Linked DNA regions of Homo sapiens: regions 1, 2 and 4 are each linked to region 3. Evidence: fine-mapped expression QTL. A gene starts in region 3. Each other region holds a variant in brackets. All regions are shown on one strand. Distances are between the middles of the regions. Region 1 has its middle 59 kb from the start of LRP1B. Region 2 overlaps KYNU (kynureninase). Region 3 holds the start of KYNU (kynureninase). Region 4 has its middle 38 kb from the start of ARHGAP15.

What was found. PIP is the estimated chance that this variant, and not a neighbour inherited with it, causes the effect.
Region 1: its variant is fine-mapped to the expression of KYNU in coronary artery (GTEx, PIP above 0.99).
Region 2: its variant is fine-mapped to the expression of KYNU in whole blood (INTERVAL, PIP above 0.99).
Region 4: its variant is fine-mapped to the expression of KYNU in whole blood (TOPMed, PIP above 0.99).

Annotation. Positions count from the first base shown.
Region 1 is chr2:142,185,706-142,193,817 of GRCh38, reverse strand. No RefSeq gene overlaps it. Among named protein-coding and RNA genes, the nearest start is that of LRP1B, 59 kb to the right of the region's middle. The variant A/T (reference allele first, on the strand shown) is at 4,114.
Region 2 is chr2:143,029,950-143,038,061 of GRCh38, reverse strand. KYNU (kynureninase) reads right to left here. Exons shown (of 14, transcript NM_003937.3): 12 at 4,741-4,826. Among named protein-coding and RNA genes, the nearest start is that of ARHGAP15, 95 kb to the left of the region's middle. The variant A/G (reference allele first, on the strand shown) is at 4,838.
Region 3 is chr2:142,873,845-142,881,956 of GRCh38, reverse strand. It overlaps KYNU (kynureninase), which reads right to left and starts at 4,293. Exons shown (of 14, transcript NM_003937.3): 1 at 4,221-4,293.
Region 4 is chr2:143,087,300-143,095,411 of GRCh38, reverse strand. It overlaps the pseudogene MTCYBP11, the pseudogene MTND6P11 and the pseudogene MTND5P24. Among named protein-coding and RNA genes, the nearest start is that of ARHGAP15, 38 kb to the left of the region's middle. The variant C/G (reference allele first, on the strand shown) is at 4,451.

The DNA.
Region 1 (8,112 bases), 690 kb after region 3:
CAGTTAACAAAACAAATGAAACTCTGTCCTCATAGAGGTTGCATTCTAATTGTAGTCAACTGGACACTCAACAATCAACAAATAACAAAATAAATGAGAAACTATATTTAAAAATACTGTGCCAGATGATCATATGCACCCTGTATAAAACAAACAAGGACAAGGAATAATGAGTATCAGGGATTGGAGGGATTAAGGAGCATACATTTACTACTATATATTGTTTATAGTGTCCTAAGATTGTCCTTGAATAAAATGAAATTATCAGCCAAGAGATCAAGTAAAATAGAACTACTCCCTAACTAAAATGTCTGCATCCTAAGTTGATAACATTCAGTCCACACACTCATTAAAATATACTACTAGGCTTCACTTTTAATTTGGACCTGTTTCTGAACCCACAATTTACAAAATGGTGCAAGACCAAAAAAGAACCATATTATGCAAAGTCAATCCCCTCAAGAAAGCTTATCACATTAAGTTGGTCCCTAAAATTCTGCACAAATTCAGTGTTTAAAGCCAATGCATAATCCCTGTATAATATTATATAAGAGAGTAAACTTTGTATAAAATTGTTTATGTCAGCCTAGCAAATAATAGTTAAAAAAAAAAGGCAGGGGTTAAAAAAAAAAAAACTCTAATAATATTGTAAATCTTTCTCCCAAAATAAATGGAATGTAGGAAGGGGGCAGGGATAGCATTAGGATATATACCTAATGTAAATGATGAGTTAATGGGTGCAGCACACCAACATGGCACATGTATACATATATAGCAAAACTGCACGTTGTGCACATGTACCCTAGAACTTAAAGTATAATAAAAATATATATAAATAAAAATAAATGCTAATGCCATTAAAAATATTTTAAAAAGATGGTTGACATCACTTATAATTTTAAAAATGCAAACTAAAACTATACCAAGATACCATCTTTTACCAATACAATTGGCAAAAATCCAAAAGCTTAACCAAGAACTATTTTGTTGAGTCTTGGGTAAAAAATAAAAATAAAAATAAAATAAAATAAAATAAATGGAATGTAGTCATCACTTAATCATTTTTAGCCCATGAAATATTATAAACAATATAAAATAGCCAGCTATAAACAATCTGTAATCCAATAACAATTTTATTTTATTATATTGATAAGGCAAATGGTAATTTATACTTCTATTTTGCTAGAACTTTTTGAATGAACTACGTAGATCATGTACAATGGACATAAACTCCCTTTATGTGTGCCAAACCAAAAATATAAAAATCAAATGGGAATGTGATTTTTACTGGGATACCTTGAGATCTGAAAGCTCTCTGTAGCTTGTCAGTACAGCAACCCTGTTCTGAGTTTTGATTAACTGTCTTTTTACTTGAATTAGATATTAGTTTCTTGATGTTTTTATTTTAAGAGAAAATTACTATTGAAATGTTCAAGATAGCTTTAGAGTTAACATTAAGATTCAAGGAAAAATGTTTTAAAAACCCATGTTCTTAATTTCTCTGAGATATATACTTTTTCCTTTTTCATTTTTACATTAATGTTTTATGGGAGGAAAAGTAATTACTCTCCTATATCAATTAAATGGCAACTGTTAAAATATCTTACAATACTAACATTTTCTGAACTCTTGTTCTCCCAACCAATAAAAAAGACATGACCTAAAAGAATTCCAAAATGAAAATGGAACATTAATTAAAACACAAATGAATATATTTGGTGTTATTTCAGTTTTAAGAATATACTTACCTTTACTGTAAGTCTCTCAGATTCTTATACTATGTCTTTTTCTCCAAGATGTTTCCAGAAGACTAGTTCTACCAGGAGTAGGAGGGTAGTAGGGAGTTTGAAAACAGCCACTATACTAGGTTATACCCGTTCTTCAATTTTAACAAATGTAACACTCTACCATGTACCTATTATTTCCTCAAGTTTTGTATTTTAAAATTAAAAAAAAATATGTTAACTGTTTCCAGATCCTTGAGGGTACCATTCATTAGTAGGTGAAAAATAAGTCAGCTCTCCTATAACATTGCAAAAATAAGAAACAGTGCACATGGTTGTAATTTGCATTGCTTGGGTGGATAGTGTACTTGCCATAATTCAACAATATAGAACTTTTTACAAATATCTAAGTGTCTATTTTCTAGTCAAAGTAATAAAAAAATGACTAAGCCCCTGGACCTAATAGTATAACATGAAGATAATCAACGAAAAGAGAACTAAAATGCTGCTTCAAGATGAATTGCTAGAAATGGCTTGGAATTTCAAGGCTGCCATTGTCATTATCAGTGAGATATCTGTTTATAGTAACCTTAAAGCTATCCAAGGAAATGCAACTATATAAGCAGAAGAGCATATAATAAGAAAAAATTGCCAGGCATAGGAAAAAAATCTCTTTCATAAAGAAGATTTTATTTGTTACTGATAATGATCGTATTTGTTTCCCACAGCATGATCCACATATGAAAGTAAGTTAAAAGATAATGAATTGTAAGGAAAAGAAAGACATTTGTACCTACTTATGCTGCCAATAGCTTTCCTTGGGTGGAGAGTGGTACCTCTATTTACGCTTAAGATTCAAACAAACTGCATCACAAATTGTCATAAAATACATATGCTCAGGATATAATGTTTTGAAAAGCTGCATTTCTCAAATCACTGCTACCAAATGCTGTATCAGTCATGATTCAGACCAGGAAACAGAAAGCACTCTTGGAATTCAAGCAGGGAGAGATTTACTGATTAAGGGTTTCAAAAATCAGAGGAGCTGGAGGAGTTGGAATCAGGGGAGTTACAACCGGACTACTAATTTCAAGGTCATACTGCCATAGCTGTGATGTAGAGGTCAGGAAGCTCTACTGCTGCTGGCTTAGATATCACTGCCACAGGCTTTCAAACCCCTAGAGCTGATGTCTTGCATTGGCATGCAGAGTGTAAGCATGCCAACCCTCTCTTCTGTCTGACATTGCTTTGCTGCAGTCACCAACAGGAATAAGGCCACTGCTTTGCTTCTGACTCGAAAGTTTGCATACAACTGTTAGCTAGAAGGGAATATGGGCAAAGTAAAAGGAAAGTGTAATAGAGAGATTGAGAGAGCTAGGCCAAGTAGTGTTCCTTAAACTTTTACCCCTTGCCCCAAAATGTTAAAGAAAACAACTCTGAATCTAAAAGATTTTTTAAAAATAACTTACTTTGTAAATTGCACTGATATGCACTAATTTGATATTAAAATCTTTCTGAGCTGATTGTGAGGCTGTGTTTTATCTTCATTTATCCTACTACATGTGAATATTTATATGATTCTCTGCATAAATATCAAGTTATTTGAATACAAGGTGACCTGACCCTCTGAGGGTGTTATGAACTATACAGTAGAAATTACACCAAGTATCAGAATGTCAAATATCAGATTGTCAAATCAGACTTACATGCACTGGAAATCTTAACCAATATCATCTTACCTGACACCAATCTTTACTAATAACTTCAATAATAGAAGGAATGCAAGGCAAAGGAAAATCAGAGAGTTGTCTGGGAGCTCCAATGTAGCTACTTACTTCTTTTCTTACCATTTTATATATTCTGGACCTAGGTTGTCATATCCTTTAAACATGTGTGCAGTTATACATTTAAATTATAAAACATGTCTAATGTAAAATAAGCTAAATCGCTTATGTGATATCGTCCAGGGAACTTTACCAATAAATCTATATATTCTAGATTTATGTACCATAATCAATCGTAGACAACCAGGTTCATCATAGTGAAAGTATTGCATAAATGATTATTCTAACACAAACAAATGCCATTAGCGTGTTACCAAAGACATTCATAATTCATATGTTTACAAGAAGATTTGACAGTTTTTTGTCTTGATGATTTCCCCAAATCCTCCATCCTTAATGATAGAGGGAATAAACTGTAGGCCAGTTCCACGTTCATTTTCTTCTAAAGGTATTTGCATTATAGTACCTTTTTAAAATCTGAAACACTCTGAATTCTGAAGTTCATCAGGCCCCAGAGGTGTAGGAAAGGCAGTTTTGGACCTATATCTACCACAGTGCATTTATTTGCTTTTCAATGACTACATGCATTCTTCCACACATATTTC[A/T]TCTTCTACACAGCAATGACATTCTTCCATCTAACCTAAGACATTTATTCTTTGTATAAATAAGGATCTTCTCATAATCTTAAAATGGGAGGCTTAAAGTTGAATTACTCATTGTATGCATCTTTGGGTTTATCCTCTAGGAACTCAAGTGTTGCTACCAGATTTTAAAATTGGACTCTGCCTCTTACTTTTTAGGAACTCTTTTCATTCTGGTTGCTTTATCTCTGGGTTGGCTTAGATTAGTGGCTCCCAATTGGGGTACGCTCTCGTGAAAGTAACACTGTGCGTCTATGAGCTACTTCAACATATTAAGAAGTCTACTGTGGTATTTCCTAAACATGGTTAATATATTGATAACTTAAGATGTTTCCTTAAAAAATTCAACTTTTTTGGCTGTACTTTGGTCTTACTAAGTCAGAATACCTTAGCAAGTACTAGAAATTTATATGTTTATTCAACTCCATGGGTAATCCTCATACACAGCATAATTTAAGGACTATTAGTCTAGTGGAATCATGTGTACGTTTGTGTGTGTGTATATATATATATATATATGCCTAAATTTACTAAAATGGTAATTATGTTTGTTTTAATTTGGAATTATAGTGAATTATGTGTGCTAACCTCATATTAAAAGATAAAATTATAACAAATTTAGTTATGGATCGAATTGGATTTTATTTGCAATTTATGAATCAAGACAGCTACATCCTACAAAACAGAATGTGAACTCTCACTGGGAAATCACAGAAGAGTGGATTTTGTAAGGTGAGAAAGAAACAGAACAAAGGAAAATAGTTGATTGGTTAACACTAGGTTACTTGAGTTAGTTTTTGGTAAGGGTTAAAACAGAGGGATCTTCCTTATGATGCTGAGTCATGTAGACTGGAATCTGCTGTTCTCAGGAAAAACTGTGCTGTTTGGGATCTATTTGCTTCCTAAAAGTTGCAGTTTGCTTATGTGACATTTAGCATGAGTGACTCCATTTTGGTTTGATCTGGTCTGATGGGGTCTGGTGCAAGATCGCAGTGCAAGAGCTCAGTCCAAGACAATGGCCTCCTATAATTGTGTTTAACATCTATTTTATTTTATTTTCAATTTCAATTTTTATTGAGCACATAGATGGCCAGATTACCTAGATGCTAAGAATACAGAGATGTAGAAAACACAGCTTTGCTCAAAAAGCTTGTGTGGATAAACACGCAAGTAAACCAAAAATTATTAAGTGTCTTCAGGACTTTAGCAGACATATGTCCCAGGTGATACAGGAGTATAGAAGAGGGATTAAAACCCATCTATTTGGCAGTTCAATATACCTTTGAGTAATAATACAAAAATAAGAAAATAAATTTGAAAATTGGAGCATTTTTAGTCAACCAAACAATCATTCAGTAACAGGAACATTTAATTAAAAAAGAAAAAATAATTCAGTGTTAAAACGTTGTTTTGTTGTTGTTTTCTGTTTGTTTGTTTGTTTGTTTTGTTTTGTTTTATTTTGAGATGGAGTCTCGCTCTGTCACCCAGGCTGGAGTACAATGGCATGATCTCGGCTCACTGCAACATCCACCTCCTACGTTCAAGCAATTCTCCTGCCTCAGCCTCCCGAGTAGCTGGGATTACAGGTGCCCACCACCATGCCAGGCTAATTTTTGTGTTTTTAGTAGAGACGGGGTTTCACGCTGTTGGCCAGGCAGGGTCTTGTACTCCTGACCTCAGGTGATCTGCCCACCTTGGCCTCCCAAAGTGCTGGGATTATAGGCATGAGCCATAGTGCCCAGCCTAAAACATGTTTTTATATTCACTTGACTATATGATGATTATAAATTCTTGCCAAGAGCTAATAGTCAATAATTTCATGATTTTACATTTTTCTTGTAGAAACACTTAATCATTCTCTCCCACAGGTAATTGATTTGATGTATGATAAATTGGTTAATTGGTTGTTTGTTTTATGGTTGTGTAATCCTGGGTAGGGTAACACAACTAATTTTACCTTTCCTAGTTTATATTTGATCACAGAAGGAGCTCAGTTTTATCTACTTAGGTAATAATTAGAGACAGCTTTTAATGTACTTTTTGCCTCTTCTAACTGCAGACTTTTCTTTTTAAACTAACAGTTTTTGAGTTACATTAAATAGAAACCCAGAGACACTCAATAGAATTCAGTGAATTTTTTTAAACTTTGTTGTTGGGTTGATTATTACTTGGTAGATGGCTTTCAGAAACATTTTCTGGAATTTATATTAAGCATACATGAAATTATAATTTAAGAGTTTTTGTTTGTTTTGTTTTGTTTTTTACTTTATGGATTGATTTTTGTCATATACAAAATAAAACTTTTCAGGGAAATTTGAAAAGAAAACTTATCACCAACTAATGAGGTGGGTTACAGAATCATTTAAAAATGTTTATTACATGTTTACTGCAGTGGTATTCACAAATGCCAAAGTATAGAATCGACCTAAGTGTCCAACAATGAGTCACGGGTAAATAAAAGGTGGTCTAGATACACAATGGAATATTATTCAGCTATAAAAAAGAATTAAATCCTGTCACTTGCAACAACATGGATGAATCTGGAGAATATAATGTTAAGTGAAATAAGCCAGGCACAGAAAAACAAATACCACATGGTATCATTCATATGTGAAATCTTAAAAAAAAAGAGGGGGGAACGTTAATATCATAGAAGCAGAGAATAAAACAGTGCTTATCAGAGACTGGGTAAGAGGAGGGAAGGGAAAATGGAGAGAGATTGATCAACAAGTACAAAGTCACAATAAGATAGGAAGAATAAGTTATTGTGTTCTATTGCACAGTAGGGTGACAATGCTTAACAGTAAGGTACTGTGTATTTCAAAATAGCTAGAAGAGAGGCTTTTGAATGTTCTCACCACAAAGAAAGGATGATAGCATGAGGTGATGAACATGCTAAATACCCTGATTTTAATATTTTACAACATATATGTGTATCAAAATATCAAATTGTGCCCCATAAATATGTAATTACAATGTGTCAATAAAAAGTAAAAAAATTCTAATTTAGGAAATATATATATTATTTATATATGTCAATTTAGGATATACATCTATATTAATTTAGAATATATATGTAATATCTGTAGATATAAATGTATATATCAGGATAGATACAGTTCCTGTCACAAGTCAAGAATTGTGCTAGGTATTGTGGACAAGGCAAAACAAAATCATATCCTACATAGTTCAGTCTTATTGGAAAAAAGAGGCAATTATAGTATGGTTTAATTAATGCCTATATGGGGACATTACAAGTTTCATTGCAACACATAAGAGAGATACTTACAGAAATAAATCCAGAGAAATCAAGCATCACCAGCCTAATTTTATTTTGGGGGGCAAAGGAGCCATGTTTCTTTTCACCGTCTCTCTTGGGATGTCTTACTCAAAGGTCTGGAGTGAAGAGTGGTTGCCTAGACTTTTCCTTCTGACCCCTTACGTACCATGAGTCCCTAGGTACAACTGTTGTTTTCCACTGAATGGAGCTGAGCAGACACAGCATCATAAACAGAGGAAATGACTAATCATTTACTGTTTCCTCTAACTGCTGGGAGCCCCTGCTGGTCTCTGGCACTCTTGCTTGTTTTGAAGTTATAATGTAAGTTTAGTCTCCCTGGAGACCAGCCTGGCCAACATGGTGAAACCCTGTCTCTACTAAAAATACAAAAATTAGCCGAGTGTGGTGGCAGGCACCTGTAATCCCAGCGACTTGGGAGATTGAGGCATGAGAATCGCTTGAACCTGGGAGGCGGAGGTTGCAGTGAGCCGAGACTATGCCACTGCACTCCAGCCTGGGCAACAATAGCGAAACTCTGTCTCAAAAAAAAAATAATAAGTCTGTAATTTTATAGCTATAAAGGGCATTAAAGATCATCAATCACTCCCACCTCATTACAGATAAGAAAACTGAAGTGCTTAAATACCCAGTGACCTTGCACAAACTCCGGGGTGAGTTAGTGG
Region 2 (8,112 bases), 160 kb before region 3:
CTTGAAGCTTTCTCTTGATAACTAGAAACCAATTTTTTTGGTATGACAAATAGCTTCCATCTTAATATACTGTGGAATGTTAACACTCTTTAAATCATAAAATAACTTTTAAATATAAAACTTACTTTCTCCATTACAACCACAATAAGGGCAACTGCATTCTGAGGCACTTTTAAATTCATCTCACAGAGGGTAAAAGTCTATTCTGAGCTTCACATAAAAATATTGAGAGAGAATAATAGGGAAGTAACATAAATATTCTATTTTCTTTTTTGCTTCTCATAAATGTTATGCTTTCAATATTGAGAAAATAATTTTTTTAAATTAGAAAAAATGAAAACTGTGGTTTGAAAAATATTCAGCTTAGAAGATAATACTTTGCAGAGTTTCAACTACTTGTATTTTTTTTCTTACTGACAAAATGAACACAAAGCTTGAAAAGCTAGATAAGTTTAAACAGGAAAAATAAGTTTGGTGTGATGTTTTCAATTGTCATATTTTTCTCTTAAATTCTTAAAACTGTCTCTCTAGGAAATTTGAAAGGAAACGTATAGTACATTTCTTTGTTGAGTCTTCTGACTCGCCATGTATTTTAATTGAATGCTCTAACTTTGTATTTTGAAGCCATTTATTTCATTATGAATTCAGAATACTGAAAGGGACTAAATATTGTCTACCTATCGCTACACATAAATATGAACCCTCAAAATATAATATACGTATTGTTTAAATTTAAGTATTTTGGAAAGTGAGGAGACTTCCAAAATAATCTTGTCCAAACATCTTACTTTAAAAAATAAGGCAAATACATCCAAAGGGAGTTGTTGCTTGTGTAAGGTCACACTTCGTGTCCATTGAGGGAGAGAGTACTTGCCACCAGGTTCCTGGCCTCAGGCTTCATCCCTTGATCCACAATATTTTAAGAACTATTGTATAAATGATTCAGATAAAAAAATATAAACAAAAGGACAGTTTGAAACTGATTACAATGTGCTATTTTTTATATCAATCAACCATATACACATGTATTTATTAAAAAAAGCCATATTAATATCTTTTTAAAAAGTCATTGCATTAAAAATCTAAGGTCTTATTTATATGTGATTGATTCTTAAGTATAGAATCTCTCCTCCAGTTCGTATTTGACTGTGTTGAATATTTCTTAAAAGTAGAGACAACAAAGAGGCAGTTTGATTCATGCATTTACTTCTTTCGTTTATTGAAACTTCAACCACCTATCTCCTAAAATGGAATAAACTGGTTTAAAAAGATAAGGTGGCTGAGTGCAGTGGTTCACGTCTGTCATCCCAACTGCTTAGGAGTATAAAAAGTAAAGTAGAGGTTCCTCTTCAAAGACTTTCCTTCCCGTCTAATTAGGAATAAATAGTAACTTCTCTTAGAAGCAAAATTTATTCAAAGACCTGTGCTAACATTCTTAAATATCTGCTAGCTGTAATAAATAAATCAATATACTTTATGTTTTTAGCTCCCACAATTTAGCCTAAATATTTGCCCTGGCATGCTTATACTGGTCCAAGCAGCATTAGGTCACAGCCTGTTCCTCTTCCTTATTTAAAAGTGTTTTTACCTTTCTTAGCATTCCACAAGTTACTTCCTCCTTCCTTTGTTACCCTCTACCTTTACGTCTTTTAAAAAGTTCTAAGTTACTAGCCAATCGGGACAAATACAGAATGGGAGGTCCCATTCCAGCCATTGGAACTGGACACAGCAGTAGGGTGGACACGTCAGGTTATAAATGACCCTGTCTCCTTTGTTCGGTGTACTCTCATGGCAAAACTGCTGGCGAGTGTATCCTCTCTGCAGGAAGTAAAAATGGCCTTACTAAATAAATTAAATTTGCGTTCAAGTGCTATTTCTTTATAGCACTGAAAAACAAACATTTCAAACAGGAGACTGAGGCAGGAGAATCGCTTGAGGCCAGGAGTTCCAGATTAACGTGGACAACATAGCCAGACCTCATCTCTAAAAAAATTTAAAAATAAGCTGAGCACAGTGGCATGCCCTGTAGTCTTAGCTACTCAGGAGGACCACTTGCAGCCAGTAGTTCAAGATCAGCCTGGGCAACATGGCAAAATCCTGTCTCTATAAAAAAATACAAAAATTAGTCGGGCATGGTGGTGCACTCTTGTAGTCCCAGCTGCTGTGGAGGCTGAGGTGGGAAGATCAACTGAGTCCAGGAGGCAGAGGTTGCAGTGAGCTGAGATCCCATCACTGCACTCTAGGAGTGACAGAAGGGGACCCTGTCTCAAAAATAAAGAAATAAAATAAATAAATAATAATAATCAGCCAAGTGTGGTGGTGCAGTCCTGCAGTCCCAGTTACCTGGAAGGTGGGGGCAGGAGGATCACTTGAACCCCAGGAGTTTGAGGCCATGCTAAGCCATGATCGTACTATTGCATTCCAGTCTGAACAACAGAGCAAGACCTCATCTCTAAATATAAATAAATAAAACTTAAAGGAAGGTAAGTATTAATAGAAGCATAGTTAATTCACTGATGTTTACTCACATGAGAAACCCATAAATGTCTAGAAAATAAGACATTTTAACAGAGAAAGGGAAGCAATTCAATGCATTAGTTTGTAATTCAAAAATTTTGCAATTTACAGTAGGAAAGAATTTTGAAAAAACACTTTTACCAACATAAGGCTTGATTAACTAAAGATAATTTTGGTTAGAACATAGTCTCAGCAGTGAAATGAGCAGAAAGAGGCTCAAGGGAAATATGTAAGTGATTAGAAGATCCAGAGAAATGCATATCATTCTTCTTGTGGCTTTTAGGGTTTTAAGTTTAGATATTGACTGGGTAACATAGTAAGACTTTATCTGTACAAAAAACTACAAAAATTAGCCTGGTGTAGCGGTGCACACCTGTAGTCCCAGCTACTCAGGAGGCTGAGGTTTAAGTTTAGATATTAAAAAGAAAAAATAAATCAGTTCTCAGATTATAACTGAAAATAAAAACTTTGTCTAGGTGACTCTAATACAGTGTGGTAGGAAAACAGTGGCTGGAAGAATAGGAATGTGCTTCCTTTCCCACAAGAGAAGGGTGAATACTACTAGAAAAGCCAGTCCACTGCAGAAAGTATGCCAAAGTGAAGGCGTCTAAAAGGAAATTTCCAGGTACGTCTGAGAAGTTATTTGCAAAGATATGGGCACCAGAGGAAATTACTTTAGGTACAAGCTCTTCCTAAGGTATGTCCTGGTGCTTCTGATATTGTCACACATCTCGCTGATACAAACTTGCAAGGAATGCAGAAACTTTATTTTGTTTTAAAATGTTTAAACAAAATATTTATCTGAATGGATACTATAAAAACAACTCAAATATCATTATCTGATTTACTAAGCAGATTTTTACTCAAAAAACTGTCAAAAATATATATCACTGGCTGAAAAATCTCGTTACTGTGTCTATTTTCCAAGTTAAAGAAAAATTCTGCCATGAAGTGAAAACAACACAAGCTCCATCTAGTGGTTAAACTGAGTAGGTGCGCTTTAAATTGAGACAGAATGAAATGAGGTGATGATCACTATCCAGTGGTGAAATTTAATAAAAACAGAGGAACTTGATGCTGCCATCCAGTGGCCAGAATGAGAAACTGCTGTAAGTGTTCACAGAATTATGCAATTTTAGATTAGAAGGAATTTTGAATCTTCATCCTGTCACTCATTTGATGCTGAAATCCTCTATAAGTTTTTGCCAAAATATCATAAACTACATGATTTTAGAAGGAGACATGAAAAAATTTCAAATCCTTGTTTGAATAGTTCTATGTAAAACTTCTATTAGAAATATATATGCACATTTACTTAAAATATATTTTACTTAAATATAGGTATACAAAATATACAATTACTTTATATATTTACATTATTTATGTAAATATTTATACATTTACATTATATATGAATTTTATACTATATAACCTATATATTTTTACTTGGCCACATTTAGTCTAACACTAAATAATAGTATCTAAGGAATCACAATTTCATTTTCTTGTTATGTATATTTATCATTTCAGGGTGAGACTAAATTTACCTAAATAAAAATATAAATTAATTTAAAGGAAAATATTGAGTCAGTGATAGTGGAGACTATAAATGGACATAATGGCATAGAAGTCCCAATTTAAAAAAATCATAAAACCACCCTACCTTATGAGACAACCTTATTTAATCTTTGGTTTACTCTGATTATTCTTTTTTCCTTCAAGTAAGTCTTTCCTAGCTTTGTCACATGGTACTTGGTCAGTTCATTCACCTACAATGAACTAGAAAAAGTACAGTCCCTAGTAATCACATCAGGCACACAATATTTTCTCAATAAATTTATGTTGAATGAGCGAATTTATGAAGAACTAAATATTGCATGCTTATTTGGTATAAAGAGAGGCCAAGAGAAGGTTAAATAACTTATTCATGTTTAAACAGATTCTAAGTGGAGTAAAAAACGTATCTCCCCAAAAGAGTTCCATTTAATATTTACTATGTGCCAACAATGTGCCAAGCATTGTGCTGGGGGCTGGTGACATGAATGAAGGGAGACCCTCACCACATCATCACTGTCCTAAAGGGGAATGCTGCCTTCTGTCCCTTGTTCATGCACAGTGCACATGTATCATCTTGCTGTGTAGCAGAGAAAGTACTATGAATTGTCACAAACAGATCAAGAAAAAACGCAAAGATGTGGGAAGGTTGAAACACACATCACTTACCTCTAAACTAGCATGCAAGGAACAGACCAACAAAATGGGAGGATTTGAAATTCGGAATCCACAGACCCCAGGGATTAACTGCAGTTCTGAGAAATTA[A/G]TATCATGTCATTATCATAGAAGGTAACTTTAAAAGTGTCCATAAAGATACTAGAGTACTGGAGAGTAAAAGAGCAAGACTTAAACTTTTCTTCCTAAGTAGGATTTCTGAGATATTTAAGATAAGCTCCATGGAACTAAAATATCGACGTTATTTCCCGTTTACCAGCAGTTCCCACCTCCCTTGTCCCCAACTTCTTAGCAGAACACCAGAAATCTTAGACCCAAGGTAAAAATGACCTCTTCTGGAAGTTTTTCTGGATCTCATTCTCTGCCTTCCTATTCCCAAGCCAGGATTCCTTATTCTGCTCAACATTTGCTATTCTATTATGAAACCATGTCAATGAGAGAGAGCATCAGCTTTTAGTGGCATGTAATTGTAATGTCTCCCAAAGGCAGAAATATGAATGAAATGACCTATGAAGCTGACTTTTAGCTCTAGGATTGTTAGGTCAAGTGGTTTCTCTTACAGAACACACACAGACACACACACACACACACACACACACACACAATAGAGGGAGCTTTAAAAAAAAGATCTGCCTAAGTATATAAAAAAGGTAAATTAATAACAGATGCTCTACTAATTAGAATTAAGCAGATTGAACTGTAGCAAGTTAAATTCAATAGGGTTAAGATAGCTAGTCAGAGATAAGTTAACACTATGACTGACTAAAAGAATGTTAAAACTTGATGACTTTTTTATAGTTATCAAATCCAGGATTAAGCAAACTATGGTGATATGGTTTGGCTCTGAGTCCCCACCCAAATCTCATCTTGAATTGTAATCCCCATATGTCGAGGGTGGGACCTGATGGGAGGTGAATGGATCATGGGGGCAGTTTCCTGCATGCCGTTCTCATGATAGTGAAGGAGTTCTCACAAGATCTGATGGTTTTAAAAACAGCAGTTTTTTTTGTTTTGTTTTTTTTTTTTGTTTTTGTTTTTGAGATGGAGTCTCGCTCTGTTGCCCAGGCTGGAATGCAGTGGCGCGATCTTGGCTCACTGAAACCTCCGCCTCACGGGTTCACGCCATTCTCCTGCCTCAGCTTTCCGAGTAGCTGGGACTACGGGTGCCTGTCACCACGCCCAGCTAATTTTTTTGTATTTTTAGTAGAGATGGGGTTTCACAGTGTTAGCCAGGGTGGTCTCGATCTCCTGACCTCGTGATCCGCCCGCCTTGGCCTCCCAAAGTGCTGGGATTACAGGCGTGAGCCACCACGCCCGGCCAAAAACAGCAGTTTTTATGCACTCTCTCTCTTTCTCTCTCTCTCTCACCTCCCATCACCTCATATGTGCCTTGCTTTCCCTTTGCCTTCTGACATGATTGTAAGTTTCCTGAGACTTCCCCAGCCATGTGAAACTGTGAGTCAATTAAAATTCTTTCCTTTTCAAATTACTGAGTCTCAGGTGGTATCTTTATAGCAGTGTGAAAACAGACTAATATATGGCCATATGGCCTGTGGGCCAAATTTGACCCACTAGTTTTGTTTTTGTTTTTGAGACAGAGTATCACTCTGTTACCCAGGCCTGAGTGCAGTGGCTCAATCATGGCTCACTGCAGCCTTGACCTCCCCGGGCTCAGGTGATCTTCCCGCCTCAGGCTCCCAAGTAGCTGGGACTACAGATGCATACCACCACTCCTGGCTAATTTCTGTAGTTTTTATAGAGACAAGGTCTCACTATGTCACCCAGGCTGGTCTCAAACTCCTGTGATCAATTGATCCATCTGCCTTGCCTCCCAAAGTGCTGGGATTACAGGCGTGAGTCTTCGTGCCAGGCCCTGCTTTTTAAAATACAGTTTTATGAAAACATAGCCACAATCTTTCACTTATGTATCACCTATGGCTGCTTTACCACCACAATGACGGAATTGAGTATTTGCCACAGAGACTGTATAGCCTAGAAAGCTTAAAATATTTCCTATCTGGCCTTTCACAGAAAAAGTTTGCTACCCCTGATCAAATTCAATTCCTTTATTTCCAAATAAGAAAACCCATCTCAAAGAATTTAAATAACTGGTATAATAACAGATCTAATTATTTTAGCAGCCAAGGTAAAATACAGGTATCCTGACTTGACTGGAATATCCCATTTTGCAATTTGGTTGCTACAAATCTGCATACCAATGGTCCCTGACTTAACAATGGTTTGACTTAAAATTGTTCAATTTTACAGTGATACAAAAGCAGTACATCTTAAGTAGAAGCCATACTTCGACTACCCATACGCCCATTGTGTTTTCCACTTTTAGTATAGTATTCAATAAATCATATAATATATTCAATGCTTTATTATAAAATAGGATTTGTGTTAGATGGTTTTGCCCAACTCTAGGCTATGTAAGTGTTTTGAATGTGTTTTAAGGTAGGCTAGGCTAAGCTATGATGTTCTATAGATTAGGTGTATTAAATGCATTTTTTACTTATGATATTTTCAGCTTATGATGGGCTTATCAGGAAATAACCCCATTGTAAGTCAAAGAGCACCTATATATATAAAATATTATCTCAGGCCAGCTTGGACAACATAGCAAGACCTCATCTCCACTAAATAATAATAATAATAATCAGCATCATCATCATCATCCAGTCATGGTGGTGCACACCTCTAGTCCCAGCTACTTAGGAAGCTAAGGCGAGAAGATTGCTTGAGCCAGGAATATCAAGGCTGAACTGAGCCTGATCGCACCACTGTACTCCGGCCTAGGTGACAGAACAAGACCTTGTTTCAAAAACAAAAAAATAAAGTCAATAAAAAATGAAAACAAATTTAAAACAGTATCTCAGGGTTTAAAGCAATCTGAAGGATCAAGTTTATGTTGAACTCTCAAAGCACGTATGATCTTTCTGCATCCCATGTGATTGAGAAATGAGGTCATGCAGGAAAAGGAAGCTCTGCATGGTAGAGTTTCACTTCTATCTGCTGGGGTTAACTGCTCACAGGAATTGCTACACTCTTTGGTACATGGCAAAAGCCACAAAAGGAAAATAGGAAAAAAGAGGAGTGAAAATGAGTATTTATTAAGGTACTGCTGTGTCCTACTTGGCTTATTGTTTTGAGCTTGACTAACCCTAAAACCAAATCTTTAAATAGATTTTATTATTCACATTAGATAAGTGGGAAAGAAAAAACAATGACACAAGATGATATAACTTGTGCAGGATCAAAAAACTATTAAGCAGCAAAGTGTGATTAACACCCAGGTCTTTCTGGATCTGACTCCAAGCCCCAAATTTCCTCCTGTCCTCCATGCCCAGTGTTTCAGGCACTCTA
Region 3 (8,112 bases):
GTAGCAAGATGTCATCTCTACAAAAAAAAAAAAAAAAAAAGAAAAAAGAAAAGAAAAGCCAGGTGTGCTGGCACTGGCATGCACCTGTGGTCCTAGCTACCGAGGAGGATGGGGTAGGAGACCAGCAGTCTGAGGTTGCAGTGAGCTAATTGTGCCACTGCACTCCATCCTGGGCAACAGAGCATGACTGTTTAAAAAAAAATTATATTTAGGATATATTAAGTTTCAAATAAGTATTGAACATGCAGGTAGAAATGTCAAGCTGGTCATTGGATATTTGAGTGTATAACTTAGGGGAATATTGGATCACAAGATATGTTTAATATTTCTCAATTCAGACTGTACTTAATGTCTAGAACTTCTGGGGGCCCAAACTCACACAGAACTAAAGCTCTAGAATTCAATTCAATCTCCATTCTTCTGCCTCCCTTCACCTTTTACCTTAACTAACACACACAGTGTTTGGCAATAAAGAGTTGCATATCTGAGTGTTAGATAATGCCAGTAAAACAGACATTCTTCTTACACTCTCGATTTTCATTCTTGTACTTTTTGGGCTTCTTCTTTTCTCAACTGTCGATGGTCTCCACTGATAAGCCATTCTTTATATTCCTAGACAAAGATACCAAGGTTCACCATTGCATGTTTTTTACTTTGATATCAGTTGTGACTCCTAACTGCTTCAATCCATGGTTCTGTACAAAAGTGTAGGATTTCAACATTGATGGATGGTGCTTTCAATATCTGACCATAAGTATTATTTGTCCTCCACATGAAATTTTCTATTTCTGTGATTTTTCTCATGCCATTTCCTTTGCCTAAAATGTTTTGCTCCCCTTCAACTTGTTTGGATTCTAGCCAACCTTCAAAGACCTAATGCTCCAATGCTTTTTTCAAGAGGCCTGTTAGGATGTCTCAGGCAAAAGTAGCCCGTCTTCCTCTGAACACCAATAACAATTAAGAGCACACTTATGTACTTTACTTACGATAATAATACATTCTGCCAGGTACTATATTTATTTGGACATATGTATGGATAGGAAAGATCAAAAACATTTGCTATGCCTGAAACTTGATTCTAAATGGCTCCCCACACATAGCTTTCTGATGAAGGAAACTGCATTTTGAAGAGAGATCACTGTGTCTCTACCGCTTGGCATTATCAATTGCCTGGTCATAGTTTATTAGACCTCTGTTGGACACTTACCCACTAAAGACAATGTAGTTTCATCAAAGATCTGTGAATTATTTGCTATAAAAGCTCTAACCAAACAGTGATGATGTTTAGCTGAGTACATAATCAAATTCTTTCAGGAATCTGAGCTGTGGGATGTGCTTATTCATTCAGTTAGATACAGGAGCTAGAATTTAAAATAATCATAGATAGAAGCTATGAAATGCTAGGGTCTAGGAGGAATACTGTCATAGAATGACTCATTTTTCAAAGTAAAACAGAACCACTGATTGTTAAAGCATGAAAAGCATGAAGTGATTCCAGCAGCAAGTAAGAGTCACTTAGTTACACAATGGCAAGGGATTGAACAGCTATGTCTCCTGAAAAGGTGACAAGACAAGCCCATCTTGCAAGTCACTGAATCCTTCATGCAACATGCTATGTGCAAGTCTCCAGGGGACCCATCTTCTTGGCTATTCCTAAAATTCCATGAGATGTTTTTCTGCCTTACTATCAGATTAGTCTTACTACAAACATATTACTGATGGTAGCTGGACTGAGTTGCTGTTCTACCCTACTGAACTGAACTCTACCTGGGGGCCTGAATCATGTTTAATTTATCTTTATAGACATCTCATTTAGACAGAGTACCCCTGCCGCCAAAGTGGCAGTTCGAGAGAATAAACAAAATTGGTTGATGAATTATTTGACATAATGACATATTACTAGAAGGGCACCCTCTCTCATTCTGACCATATGAGAAAGACTTAGACAAACATTTCTAATGAAATTCAGAATCAAGAGAGCTTGCCTTATATTTGAGACTTTCTTTGGGAGGTCAGCCCTTTGAGTTGATTGGAGGTGACTTTAAACTCTAAGTGGGGTTACTTAAATAAAGAGATTAGTTTGTTACCAACAGATTCTGAATAAAATTCAACTTTCCTTATTTTAAAAATGATACTCATTAGCGTCATTCTATCTGTATCTTATTTAATGCTTGTAATAATCCTGAGGCATCAGAATCCTTTTCCTCTATATTGAGATGAAAACCTGGCACAGACAGAGTAGAAACCAGTGGACTAAAAGGATAGCAGAGTGCACAGTAGGGTACTTAACCATGCCTGAGATGCTGAGTCCATTGTGCTGGTCTTTGGCAAAGCCCATGAATGGAATGCACAGAGCTCAATTCCTCCTCGAAGCCTTGAACCTCTCACTTTATTTTTCCTTGCCTGTTGCTTCCTGATGTGTGTGTGTACGTGTGTGTATTTCTTCAGCTCATTCCCTTTTTCTTTGGCTTCTTTTTTCAGTCCTACACTTAAGCTGCAAAGGACCACAAGCTACGTATGAATTGATTTACCTTTTTAATCCATCCTTCCCAGTCCAGTTTCAGCCAGGCAAAAGTTAAAGTGGCTGGTTCCGCTCCTGGGCCTGTCACATCTGGGGTACCTTGAGATACCTGATGGGCATAGTCTTCCAAATGACTGCACCCTGCCCTACTCCACCACTTGCACAACTTCGCATGGTCTCAAATATAGTCTTTAGTTCCCAGAATAGCATAGTGCACTCACTCTAAGGATGCAATTTATTCACTCATACTAATTGCTGCTTAATTCTGCATTCACCCCAGCAGCTAAGACAATTAGTGTTCACAAGCCATAATGTTATGCCATGTTTAGTTTGCAAATAAAGTGACATGCTCATATTCTGAAAGGAAGAACTTAAATCCAAACTTTTAAAAACTTCAACTTTTACATATTTTACAAATTTTCAAATGTTACATATTTAGTGTTAATTTTATCAAGACGGGGGACATACATACCATATGGTCTCAGACAAATCACCTAACTGCTCTGTATGTCAATGTTATTTAAAGTTAAATTTTACTTTCTTCAAAGGATTATGGTTAAGCTCAAATGACATTAGGTCCTTTATAAAAAGATAAAAGATAGTTTGTAATATTTTTTTAAATTATCAATACCTTCTGATGGACAGCATCAATGTGCCTTCGATTTAGGTTTGGAAATTGTGCTTTCACAATTTTATTTAGACAGCTACAACTTTAAAGTAAAAAGCTTGTATAATAATTAAAAACTGATTGATTTTAACGAAATCACAGAATTCAGAATCTCCTAGTCACCCACTGATTTAGGGCTAAATAGTTAAATAAATGACTGAGTGTCTGGTAGTTAATCTTTACACAGTTTCACATTCATGCCTGAAATAAGCAAATTGTACATAGGAGTTCAAAGTTTAGAACCTGACTTAAAAATATGTTGAGAAAGCGTGTAGTTTTTCATTAGTAAAGAAAAAAGGAAAAACAATATGCATATTGAGCAAGATTCTTTAAGCATATCATTGAGAAATGGGTAACATTACTCTGCTACGAGTGTATATTTCATATCTAGGATATGAATTACTTGCTGAACACGTTAAGAAAATCAATACATTTGCTTCAGTGTTACTACTAAATAACACCCCACTGGCCTCAAAATAAAAGCAGAAAGGAAAAAAGAAAATCTAGTATATTTTTAAAAAGTGTATCAACTTTCTTTTCTTAGGTTTCATAAAATGAAAGGGGAAGAAACTCTGTTCAAGAGTAGGCATTTTCACTTCTCTAAATAAATATTTAATATGACTACTAGCAGCATAAGACAATTAAAGTTACCAGAAAACAGAGGACTTAAAATCTGTTTAAGAATATCTTTCCCTCGTCTGGAGTTTGACCTAATCTTACCGCTTAAACTCAAATAAGAACAGGACTAACTTTGGTTTGTCAAATGTAACCATATTCAGTGCACTATGTTCATCAGTTCTTTTCTATTACATTAGTAAAGATCTTTTCATTTAACCCATTTCTAAAGGTGGGGCCTTTAGGAAGGTCATACCATTTTTATTTACAAAAAGAATATATATAAAAAAAGAAGAGAGTAGCAGAAAAAAACCTCTAAAACACTATGACAAGGATTCTAGCTGACAGAAGTTTCATTTGGAAAAAACATGGAGTAAACATTAGGGTAGAGAGTTTTTATCAGCGCCTCAAGCTTACCAGCTAGGATCCCAATGGAGTGTTTGGCTCCCAGAATCTCTCCAAGAACCTCTCAAGAATTCCTTGAAAATGTACAGGCCAGATCTTAGGGTGAGAAATTCAAAGAACTGCTCAGACTCCACCCAGTGGAGAATTTATAAATATTTTACTTTACTTCCTCTCCCCTAACCAATCGGTAATCTCCAGCCACTGTCAGAAATTTAAGCAACATGTGCTCCTGCCCACCATTTCAAATGCCAGAGCCTCCAGTGAGGGCTTCTTTCCAGAGGCAACTTTGCTCTTTAAACTCAGGTAAACACACACTTGTCCTTTAACTATATAAATCTCTGACCCCTGAACTGATGAGTTGGTCTTAGAGCTAAATTCCAAATTTTGCCTTTCTTCTTCACTTTGAGCTCTGGATTTTTGAGACAATACCCTCCTTCAAATACACTGAGGATTTTCAGTCTGATGGTTGAATCTATGACATTTAATGGGTAAACTTTTTAGTCAAAAGTTTAAAATAGGCTCTCAATTCCAGAATACACTCTATTGCCTAATATGTGAGTTTTCAAAAACTCCTAGGTAATAAATCTGGACAGTTAACAAGACAATGAAGGAAGAAAGATCTGAAGATTCAAGTGGAAACTAGCCTGGCAAACTTCATTAATGCAAATTATTCATTTAAGTCTGTGAATTGTCTTTTGTTCTAGTCTGACTACCTCTTTAGGCTTATTCCTGAGCTTGGGTCTTTTGATGAATATCCTTGTAGTTATAAAAACTAAGAGCAAAGACTTTCGATATTAGGACTAGGGATGAAGAATGTGCTTGAATAATTGAATGACTTATGCACACCTATGCTTTATTTAGTAACCCACAACAAATCAAGTAAAGTGTCATTTAATCATTTCTATCAAGTGTTCATTGTATAACCCTGAGCAATTCACTTAACCCTTGTGGAGGCTCAGTCTCCTATTTATCAAATGAACTTAATAATACCTTCCTCCCAAGATTACTGAAACGATAAAACCATGCAGGTTGAAGGCCATAGATACCATGACACTCAAGTCAAAAGTGACATATTGTCTTTTTTTTAATCTTAAGTAACCAGACAAAAAGTACTACTCTCCAGTTTCCAAGAGAGGGAGATAAAGTGCATGAAATTGCTTTAATACGAGTAATTGACCAGTGAAAATAAAATATATTTCACTTCATTGATCCTATCCTTACAATAATCCTATAAAGTAAGTAGACTACCAATTGATTAACTTAGAATAGTAAAAGTTTGAATCCATTCAGGAAATTTCAGAAGGTGTACTTTTTTTGCATCTATTCTGTGTATGCCTCATGCTGTAAAAACTTTGGAAGATTACCAGGCTCTAATATATGGGGAGCGAACCAGAGGGCGGATCTGTGTCATTTTTGTGTCACTCTTTTAAAGACTGACTATAGATTTAGAGAGCTAGATATGGACATTAAGGTTTTGTTTTCACAAGATCTTGCTTCTTCTAAAATCTTGTAATAATATGATTAAAAATTTCATCAAAATATTATCTTAAAAACTACTGTTTAACTTGTCACCTTTAAAGAACTTGCTTGGAGGTCTAAGCTATACTTCTATTTCTTATGTTTTATAAATTTCTTTCTTTCTTTAAATTTGTTACATTTGAGGAATAAAAATAAAATCCCAAGCCCCTAGATTAACTGAACGGACACGCTCTTGGCCAAGGGGATCCCAGAGTAAACTTGAAAACTAAGTTTTTGGCCATGACAGGATAGGAAGTGGAACACATACCCGCTCCATCACTAACTATGATTAGGCTTTCTGCCCTATGGCTAAAAAGAAACCAGTCATTTCAAAAGATTACACCAATGACATCAACCATCACCTGGTGTTATCCCTCTCTTTTGTGGTTTGGAACAAAAAGAAAATACTGATCATGGAATGTTTCTGGCTAGTCTATGGAGAATGTGCAGTAAAGGTTTTCATGTCCTCTGCTTCACATTGGGCTGAAAACTGCCCCCTCAGATTGTATTAATGCTGTCATTTTTTGAACACGGATCCCATGGAGAAGCATGAAACTCCATTGTGCATGTGCACATTTCTCCTTTCACAAATATTCATGGCTTCCCCTATAGCTTATTGAATATATATATTCAGCTACCCTGCTCAACATAAATTTCTGTTTCCTTTGCTCCTCCCTCAAAATGTCTGTTTCCAGCTTCTGATTAGAGGCTATACTTTTCAGAGGTCAGAATGATCACCCTGCAGGCTGCAATCCTTTATGTGAAATGAAGCTCTCCTTTCCAAATGTATGAACCTGTCATTCTTCAGTTGACACTTTCATTCATTCAAGAAAAGTATTAAGCATATTCTCTGTACCAAGCACAAAGTGAAATGCCAGGGATGTAATGGGGAGCAAAACTTGTATAATAACATAGGCCGCTAAATACAGAAGGGAATTATGAGAGAACGAGTCATGCGGGGAGGGGTGAAAGCAAGACCCGCTACAGGGCCAGCAGTCAAGGTTAAACAGAGAACACTGTGAGATACCATTCCTTCCTTTTGGAAACAGGAAGAAAAAAAGTGTTGCCAGAATAAGCTGTTGTACAATTCCGAGTTGTCTATTAATTTCCAGGTATGGCATCCTGCTTATAAAATGATATGTTTCCGAGAGGAAAAGACTAATTTTATCCTCCTCAGAGCTCTACCTATGTATGGAGCTAAATAAATATCTACTGAATTGGTTAATTTGTTTTTTTTTAATTAAGATCTAGTTTATTTTCTAAAAATTGATTATTGGAAATATGGGAAAGTTTTGTCCTCTCAAAAGGTAATCTTGAACCATGAACTTTATTCTTATTCTTCAGGGCATTTTCGCCATAGTTAGGCCAGTATCTAGCATTTAGTAGACTAAAATGGGTGCTTGCTGGATCATTAACTAAATTAAATTCAGATCAGCAAACTCTTTATGTAAGAATCCAAGGCTGCACTACCAGGCTGATCATAACACTCTAATGCTGGGTGCTCAGTATGTGAAATGAGTAATGAGATTAAAGACAGAGACAAGTTAGGAAAGAACTAATAAAAAAAACTGCAGTCTCAAACTTGGGTAAACAGAAAATTTCACAATACGCTATTTTTCTTAATTAAATAAAAACGCAGAGCTCACATGTGACTTCTTAGGAGGAAAATTTACTCTGAGTCATTATTGGAACTCTCCTTTCTTCTTTACACAGGGTGTTGGGAAGTTCCCAGATGGGAGGGGCAGATTAGCTTCCTTCTCTCTGCCCTCCTGCCTCTCCTTTCCCCTCACCATATCCCTGGGGCCTTGCACACCCAATCACTCTTTCCAAACTTCCCCTTGGGGATAACCAATATAACATAACAAAAACTTTCTCAAATGCCAGTCATGAGATTTGCCTTAAGCAATTTCTGCCAAGGAACCTACAGCATCTTCTCTATATGGGTAGGGGAAAATATAAAAAACAGAGCACACACAAAATTATCTCTCCTCTCTTCTTCCCTCTCCCCTTATCTGTCCTTCCTTCCCCTCTCCTTCCTTTCCTGCTGCCCCCTCCTCTTTCCCTCTTCTTGCCTTCTCTCCTCTTTCTCTAATGCCCTCCTCTTGCCTTCTCTTCCTCTCTCTCTCTCTCTCCTTTTCTTTTTCCCTTTTTCTCTCTTCCCTCCACTGCACTCTCATTTCCTCACCCATACTCTCCTTTCTTCTCCCTCTCCCTCCTACAACAGGGAAGGCAAAGCAAATTAATATGCTAATAAATCACTAGGCTATGTTTAGACAATCTACTTTTTCCTTCCTGTGAGATACATAGTCTGGTTATTAGAAAAATTTCTCAGTAATGGGCGGGGACTTTCCTACCCTCTCTATATGTTGTATTTTCAGTTTTTCAG
Region 4 (8,112 bases), 210 kb before region 3:
CTTTCCTCACAGGCTTTTATTCTAAAGACCTCATTATCGAAATCGCAAACATGTCATATTCCAACACCTGAGCCCTTTCTATTACTCTTATTGTAACCTCCCTAACAGCTGTCTGTAGTACCTGAATTATTTTCTTTGCTCTGATAGGACAACCTCACTTCACAACTCTGATTCATATTAACGAAAATAACCCCTTCCTAATTAACTCAATTAAGCATCTAATAATTGGCAGCATCTTAGCTGGATTCCTCATTACCAATAGTATTACTCCTACTTCATCCCCCCAAAAAACTATGCCACTTCACCTAAAACTCACAGCCCTAGGTGTGACTGCCTTAGGCCTCTTACTAGCAATGGAGCTAAATTTTATAACTAACAACCTTAAGCTAAATTATCCATTACAGACATTTAACTTCTCCAATATATTAGGTTTTTACTAGCCACAATCCACCATACAACCCCCCACCTCAAGTCTATTTACAAGCCAAAATCTGGCCTCACTTCTACTAGACCTAATTTGATTAGAAAAGTCCACACCAAAAACCATTTCACAAACCCAAATATCAGCCACCATTACTGTATCTACTCAAAAAGGCCTAATTAAACTTTACTTTCTCTCCTTTTTTATTTTACTCCTTCTAACTCTAAATTATCTAATCTATTACCCCGAATAATCTCATTTGCAACACAAATACTAACAAACAATGTTCAACCAGCAACTACCAGCAATCAACATCCATAACTTTACAAAGCAGCCACACTGACAGAATCCTCATGCAATAACCCCACCCCCTCACCCTCAAAAATTATTCAACTCCACATACTATTAAAATTAATTGTGATGACCATCCCATCATGCTCAACTATTCACTGAATCAACACCAACCCTATTAATAACCCTAATAATAAAGCCCCTCAAATGTCAATAGTTGACCCTCATGTTTCAGGGTATTCCTCAGTAGCCATTGCCGCAGTATAATAAAAAACAACCATTATACCACCCAAATAAATTTAAAACACTATTAACCCCACAAAAGCCCCATCAAAGTTCAACACAATACCACAACCCACAGCACCACTAATAATCATCCCTAGATCTCCATAAATAGATGGTTTCGAAGAAAAACCTACAAATCCTATAAGAAAAAGAATACTTAATACGAATAAAATATATGCCATTATTCCTACACGGACTATAATCATAACTAATGGTATAAAAAAATCATTGTATTTCAACTGTAAGAATGCTAATGACCAAAATACGCAAAACACACCCGCTAATAAAAATTATTAACCATTAATTCATTGATCTTCCCACAGCATCCAGCATTTCTACATGATGAAACTTTGGCTCACTTATTGGTGCCTGCTTAATTCTCCAAATCATCAGAGAATGATTTCTGGCCGTACACTACACATCGGATACCTTAACTGCCTTCTCTTCAGTCACCAATATCAGCCGAGATGTAAATTATGACTGAATAATCTGCTATTTTCATGCTAACGGCGCTTCAATATTTTTCATCTGCCTCTTCCTACATGTTGGCCGAGGTTTATATTATGGGTCATTTATATTTCTAAAAACCTGAAATATTGGCATTATCCTCCTACTCACAACCACAGCAACAGCATTTATAGGTTACATACTCCCATGAGGCCAAATATCATTCTGAGGTGCTACAATAATTACAAATCTACTATCAGCAATCCCATATATGGAAACTGACCTTGTATAATGAATCTGAGGTGGATTCTCAGTTGACAAAGCCACGCTTACACAACTTTTAGCCTTCCGTTTTATCTTTCCCTTCATCATTGCAGCTCTAACAACTGTTTTCCTTTTATTCTTACGTGAAACAGGATATAATAACCTTCAGGGATCTCATCAGACCCTGACAAAATCACTTTCCAACCTTACTACGTAATCAAATATATTCTAGGCCTAACTCTCCCCCTCCTCCTCCTAATAGTCCTAGTACTATTTTCACCTGATCTCCTGAGCCACCTGGATAATTACACTTTAGCCAACACCCTCAATACCCCACCCCACATTAAACCAGAGTGATACTTTTCCATCCCTAACAAACTAGGAGGTATGCTCGCCCTTACATCCTCCATTCTCATTCTAGCAGTTATTCCTATACTTCACACATCTAAACAACAAAACATAGTATTCTGTCCATTAAGTCGATGCCTATTCTGAATCTTAGTGCTGACCTGCTCACACTCACATGAATCGGAGGGCAGTGAGTCAACTACCCTTTTATTATCATCAGACAGACAGCATCCATTATGTACTTCTTTACCGTCCTCACCCTTATACTAATCATTGCCCTAATTGAAAACAAGCTACTTAAATGAAACTGCCCTTGTAATATAATTCAATACTCTGGTCTTGTAAACCAGAAATGGAGAATTTCCTCCCCAGTACAACTCAGGAAAAAAAGTATACCCACTTCACCATCAACACCCAAAGCTGAAATTCTGATTAAACTATTCCTTGCACTTTTTTCAGCACACACTTTAACTACCATGCCAGTATTAATGAACTAGCACTAACACATTAGTGCTCTTATGTACTTCGTGCATTACTGCTAGCCCCCATGAATAATATGTTGTACTATAATTGCTTAACTGTACATAGTACATTAATACATCAAGGTACATTAAAAATACAATCCACATACATATAAGCATATAAGCATGTATTAATGACTCTCCAACTATTGCACATTCACTATCATTAATCGTACAACAAAATCCAGTCAATACGAATATCGACCCATACTAAAAATCCTTAATATTACATAGTACATAAAATTTTCATCGAACATAGCACATTTCAGTCAAAAAAGTCCTTGTCAACATGAATATCCCCTCCCAAATTTTGGTCTCTTAATCTACCAACCTCCGAGAAATCATCATCCCACTCGGGAGTACTACCTTCCTCGCTCCGGGCCCATAACACTTGGGGGTGACTATACTGAAACTATACCTGGCATCTGGTTCTTACCTCAGGGCCATAAAACTAAGATCGACCACACGTTCCTCTTAAATAAGACATCTCAATGGACTAGTGACTATCACCCTATTAGCCAGTCAGGGGAGCACTGTCATGCATTTGGTATTTTTAACTTTGGGGGATGCTATTACCATCGCGAAAGGCCTGGTCCCCTCTGAATCACTGTAGACAAACTCGGATTTGATTTCTGCCAAACCAGTTGTAGAAACTGAGCTTATATTTAATATTCTGACCTGGCATAACAACCATAAGATGTTAATTAATTCATGCTTAAAGGACATAATGAGTAACCAATAGACAAGTATGCACGATCACGTATGCATGATCATGTAGGCACGATCATGTACGCCTATTTTCAAGAACTATTTTCAACTTAATCCACAAACTCCCCCTCCCCCACCCCTGACTTTACCATCAACCTAGGTAAGTGTACCCTTGCCAAACCCCAAAAACAAGAGACTAAAACCCAGTTAGAGTCCAAAAGTCATATTTTAATCATGAATACCCCAACAGGTGCCCTTTGATTGATGTGTTTCCCAAAAATCTTAAAAATCTTTCTACTAAATTAAGCCTCTACTTATATAACAAATATAATAACTAAATTTTCACCCTTGTACTAATATAATACCTTGAACATAACCCTCTGAAAGTGCTACCCATAAACAACAGCCTAAAACAATTACCCCTAATGTAAAACCCCTCTCAATCAAACTTCTGCCAATTCAAGTTAAACCACTTAAATTACCATAATTGTAAATGACTATTTCTTCCCCTTATATTTTAATTTTATACTCAAACATTTATGCAGTTAATGTAGCTTAATTATTCCAAGCAAGACACTGAAAATGTCTAGATGGGTCTGCACGACCCCATAAACATAAAGGTTTGGTCCTGGTCTTTCTGTTAACTCTTAGTAAGATTACACATGCAAGCATCCCCATCCCAGTGAAGATGCCCTCTAGATCACCTGAATCAAAAGGAGCAAGTATCAAGCACACACAAATGCACCTCAAAATACTTTGTTCAATCACACCCCCACAGGAAACAGCAGTGATAAATCTTTAGCAATAAGCAAAAGTTTAAAAGCTCTACTAATACTTAGGGTTGGTCAATTTCGTGCTAGCCACTGTGGTTATATGATTAACCCAAGCTAATAGATCTTGGCATAAAGAGTGTTTAAGATCTACCCTCAATAAAGATAAACTCCATCTAAGTTGTAAAAAAACTCCAGCTGAAATAAAATAAACTACAAAAGTGGCTTTAATATCCTGAAAACACAATAACTAAGACCCAAACTGGGATTAGATACCCAACTATGCTTAGCCCTAAACTATAATAGTTAAATTAACAAAACAATTTACCAGAATACTACAAGCAACAGGTTAAAACTCAAAGGACTTGGCAGTGCTTTATATCCATCTAGAGGAG[C/G]CTGTTCTATAATTGATAAACCCCGATGCACCTCACCACCTCTTGCCCCCAGCCTATATGCCACCATCTTCAGCAAACCCTAGAAAGGTTGCAAAGTAAGCACAAGTATACACATAAAAATGTTAGGTCAAGGTGTAGCCTATGAGGCTATATTTTCTTTACCCAGAAAATCTCATGATAGCCTTTATGAAATCTAAGGGCTCAAAGAGGATTTAGCAGTAAACCAAGAGCTGAGTGCTTGGTTGAATAGGGTCATGAAGCACACACACGCCACCCATAACCATCCTCAAATATTATTCTAGAAACAAATACTACTAAAGCTCTCTACCCATATATAGACGACATAAGTTGTAACATGGTAAGCATACTGGAAAGTGTGCTTGGAAAAATCAAAGTGTGTAACTTAACCCAAAGCATCTGGCTTACACCACAAGATTTCATCACAACTTGATCTCTTTGAGCCAATTCTAGACCCAAACTTCTCTAAAAATATTATCAAATTATCTTAATTAAATCACTTACCTAAACAGAAGTATAGGTGATAGATATTTTTACCTTGTGCAATAGACATAGTACCATAAGGGAAAGATGAAAAAACTAAGACAAGCATAAAAAAGCAAAGACCAACCCTTATACCTTCTGCATAATGTATTAACTAGAAATAACTTTACATAGATAACCAAAGCCAAGTCTCCCCAAACCAGACAAGCTACTCAAGAACAGCTGAAAGAGCACACCCAACTATGTGGCAAAATAGGGGGAAGATTCATGAGTAGGGGTGACAAGCCTACCAAGCCTGGTGATAGCTGGTTTTCCAAGACAGAATCTTAGTTCAACTTTAAACTTTCCCACAGAATTACATAATCTCCCTGTAAGTTTAACTGTTAATCTAAAGAGGGACAGGTCGTTAGACTCTAGGAAACAACCTTCCTGCAGAGGGTAAAAAAATATTACCATCATAGTGAGAGGTGACAGTGTGCTGGCAGCCCTCACAGCCCTCACTGGCTCTGGGCGCCTCCTCTGCCTGGGCTCCCACTTTGGCGGCACTTGAGGAGCCCTTCAGCCTGCCGCTGCACTGTGGGAGCCCCTTTCTGGGCTGGCCAAGGCCAGAGCTGGCTCCCTCAACTTACAGGGAGGTGTGGAGGGAGAGGCGCCAGCGGGAACCGGGGCTGCGTGCAGCACTTGCGGGTCAGCTGGAGTTCCAGGTGGGCATGGGCTTGGTGGGTCCCACACTGCCTCTCACCCCCGCACCACTCCCCCCACACCCCCCGAGTGGGCTCCTGTGCAGCTGGAGCCTCCCCTACAAGTGCCACCCTGTGCTCCACCGCACCCAGTCCCATCGACCACCCAAGGGCTGAGGAGTGCGGGCCCAAGGCACGGGACTGGCAGGCAGCTCCACCTGTGACCCCAGTGCAGGATCCACTGGGTGAAGCCAGCTGGGCTCCTGACTGGTGGGGACTTGGAGAACCTTTATGTCTAGCTAGGGGATTGTAAATACACCAATCGGCACTCTGTATCTAGCTCAAGATTTGTAAACACACCAATCAGCACCCTGTGTCTAGCTCAGGGTTTGTGAATGCACCAATCGAAGCTCTGTATCTAGCTAATCTAGTGGGGACGTGGAGAACCTTTGTGTCTAGCTCAGGGATTGTAAAGGCACCAATCAGTGCCCCGTCAAAACAGACCACTCGGCTCTCTGTAAAATGGACCAATCAGCAGGATGTGGGTGGGGCCAGATAAGAGAATAAAAGCAGGCTGCCCCAGCCAGCAGTGGCAACCCGCTGGGGTCCCCTTCCACACTGTGGAAGGTTTGTTCTTTTGCTCTTTGCAATAAATCTTGCTGTTGCTCACTCTTTGGGTCCACACTGCCTTTATGAGCTGTAACACTCACCACGAAGGTCTGCAGCTTCACTCCTGAGCCAGTGAGACCAGGAACCCACCAGAAGGAAGAAACTCTGAACACATCTGAATATCAGAAGGAACAAACTCCGGACACACTGCCTTTAAGAACTGTAACACTCACCGTGAAAGTCCGCGGCTTCATTCTTGAAGTCAGTGAGACCAAGAACGCACCAATTCCAGACGCAATAGTTGACCCCAAAGCAGCCACCAATTAAGAAAGCGTTCAAGCTCAACATCTGACTATCCTAAATTCTAATCACACTACTGAACTCCTTACATCACATTGGACTAATCTATTATTTAATAGAAGCAATAATGTTAATATAAGTAACATGAAGATATTGCCCATTACATAAGCTTACATCAGACTGGAAATATCCACCGACAGTTACAGGCTAATATTAGCAAATGATTTCCTAATTAGTTCCCCGGTTCAGGGGGAGAGAAAGAGGAAATGGTCAGAAACCAACCATTGTAGGCAATATAATGGCCTCCAGAATGTCCATGCCCTAATCCCTAGAATCTATAAATATGTTACCTTACATGGCAAAAGGGACTTTGCAGGTGTGACTAGGGTTAAGAACCTTGAGATTGGGAAATATCATTATCCCAATCTCAATTATCGCTGTGTGTCTATCGAGTCATATGGCTCCTTAAAAGCTGAGAACCTTTCCCAACTGTGATGAGAGACTCCAGAGCAATAATGAGACAGATGCAATGTTGCTGGCTGGAGAAAGGGGCCATGAGCCAAGAAATGTGGGCAGCCTCTAGAAGCTGGAAGAGGTAAGGAAAAGGATTCCTCTCTGGATCTTCCAGAAACTATTTCAGCCCTGTCAACCCCCCGATATTAGCCCAGTGAAGCCCATGTTAGACATCCAACGTGCAGAACTGTAAGATAATAAGTGTGTGTTGTTCTAAGCCACTAAATTTATAGTAATTTGTTATAGCAGCAGCAGTAAATTAATTCCCCAACCTAGGATAGAAGTTGAAGAAAACAAAGCTTAATTGAGGAGGCGGTGAATTATAGTAACAGAAGCAGATGGTAACTTGAGGAAGGAACGATAATTTGGGGAAGGAACAGAAGTTAATTCTCATGTAGGATCCATCCCAGATGTTGGGGAACAATAGTGGGTACTATCAGATAATTTTATTTTTTCCTCTTTGGCCTCTTGCTCATGATAGATCTGAGAAGACACTTCCACATTGCTTATGCTGGCTGGATATTAAAATATGTTGCAAGTGTCTCATTCTCCAATTAGTAGAAAGGGTTATAACCAGATACAACAAGCAAGTATGTAACCAAAGCTGCTAAATAATGAGCAGAAGCAAAATGAGGCTTTGGAACGTGGTTAAGCCAGACTACTCATGTTTATCAAGTAGGACTAGGTATTTAAGGGCCATGAAACAGGAGATCATTTATAAAAAATTATTCTCATTTTGGTTAATCATGAAATCTAAAAAGTATGTTTAGCTATTGAGGAGGAAGTAATGTTTTGGTTAAAGTAGGCAAATTACTCCTATGAGCATGTCAGGTAGGGATTGCTTCTAGTAGAAAATATTTTTTGTTTGCATTTTTAACATTAAGTTAATTAATAATTTATTATTGTAGATTGGATGAAAGTTTTGTGTGGAGTGAGATTACTCTATTTCCCCTAATTTCCTGTCTATACATTCTTTTCAAAGCTTTCCAGGCTAGCAGGAAAAAGAAACAAACAAAAAACCAAAAACCTGCCCAGTATGTCCCTAGGGCTGAGGGGTTT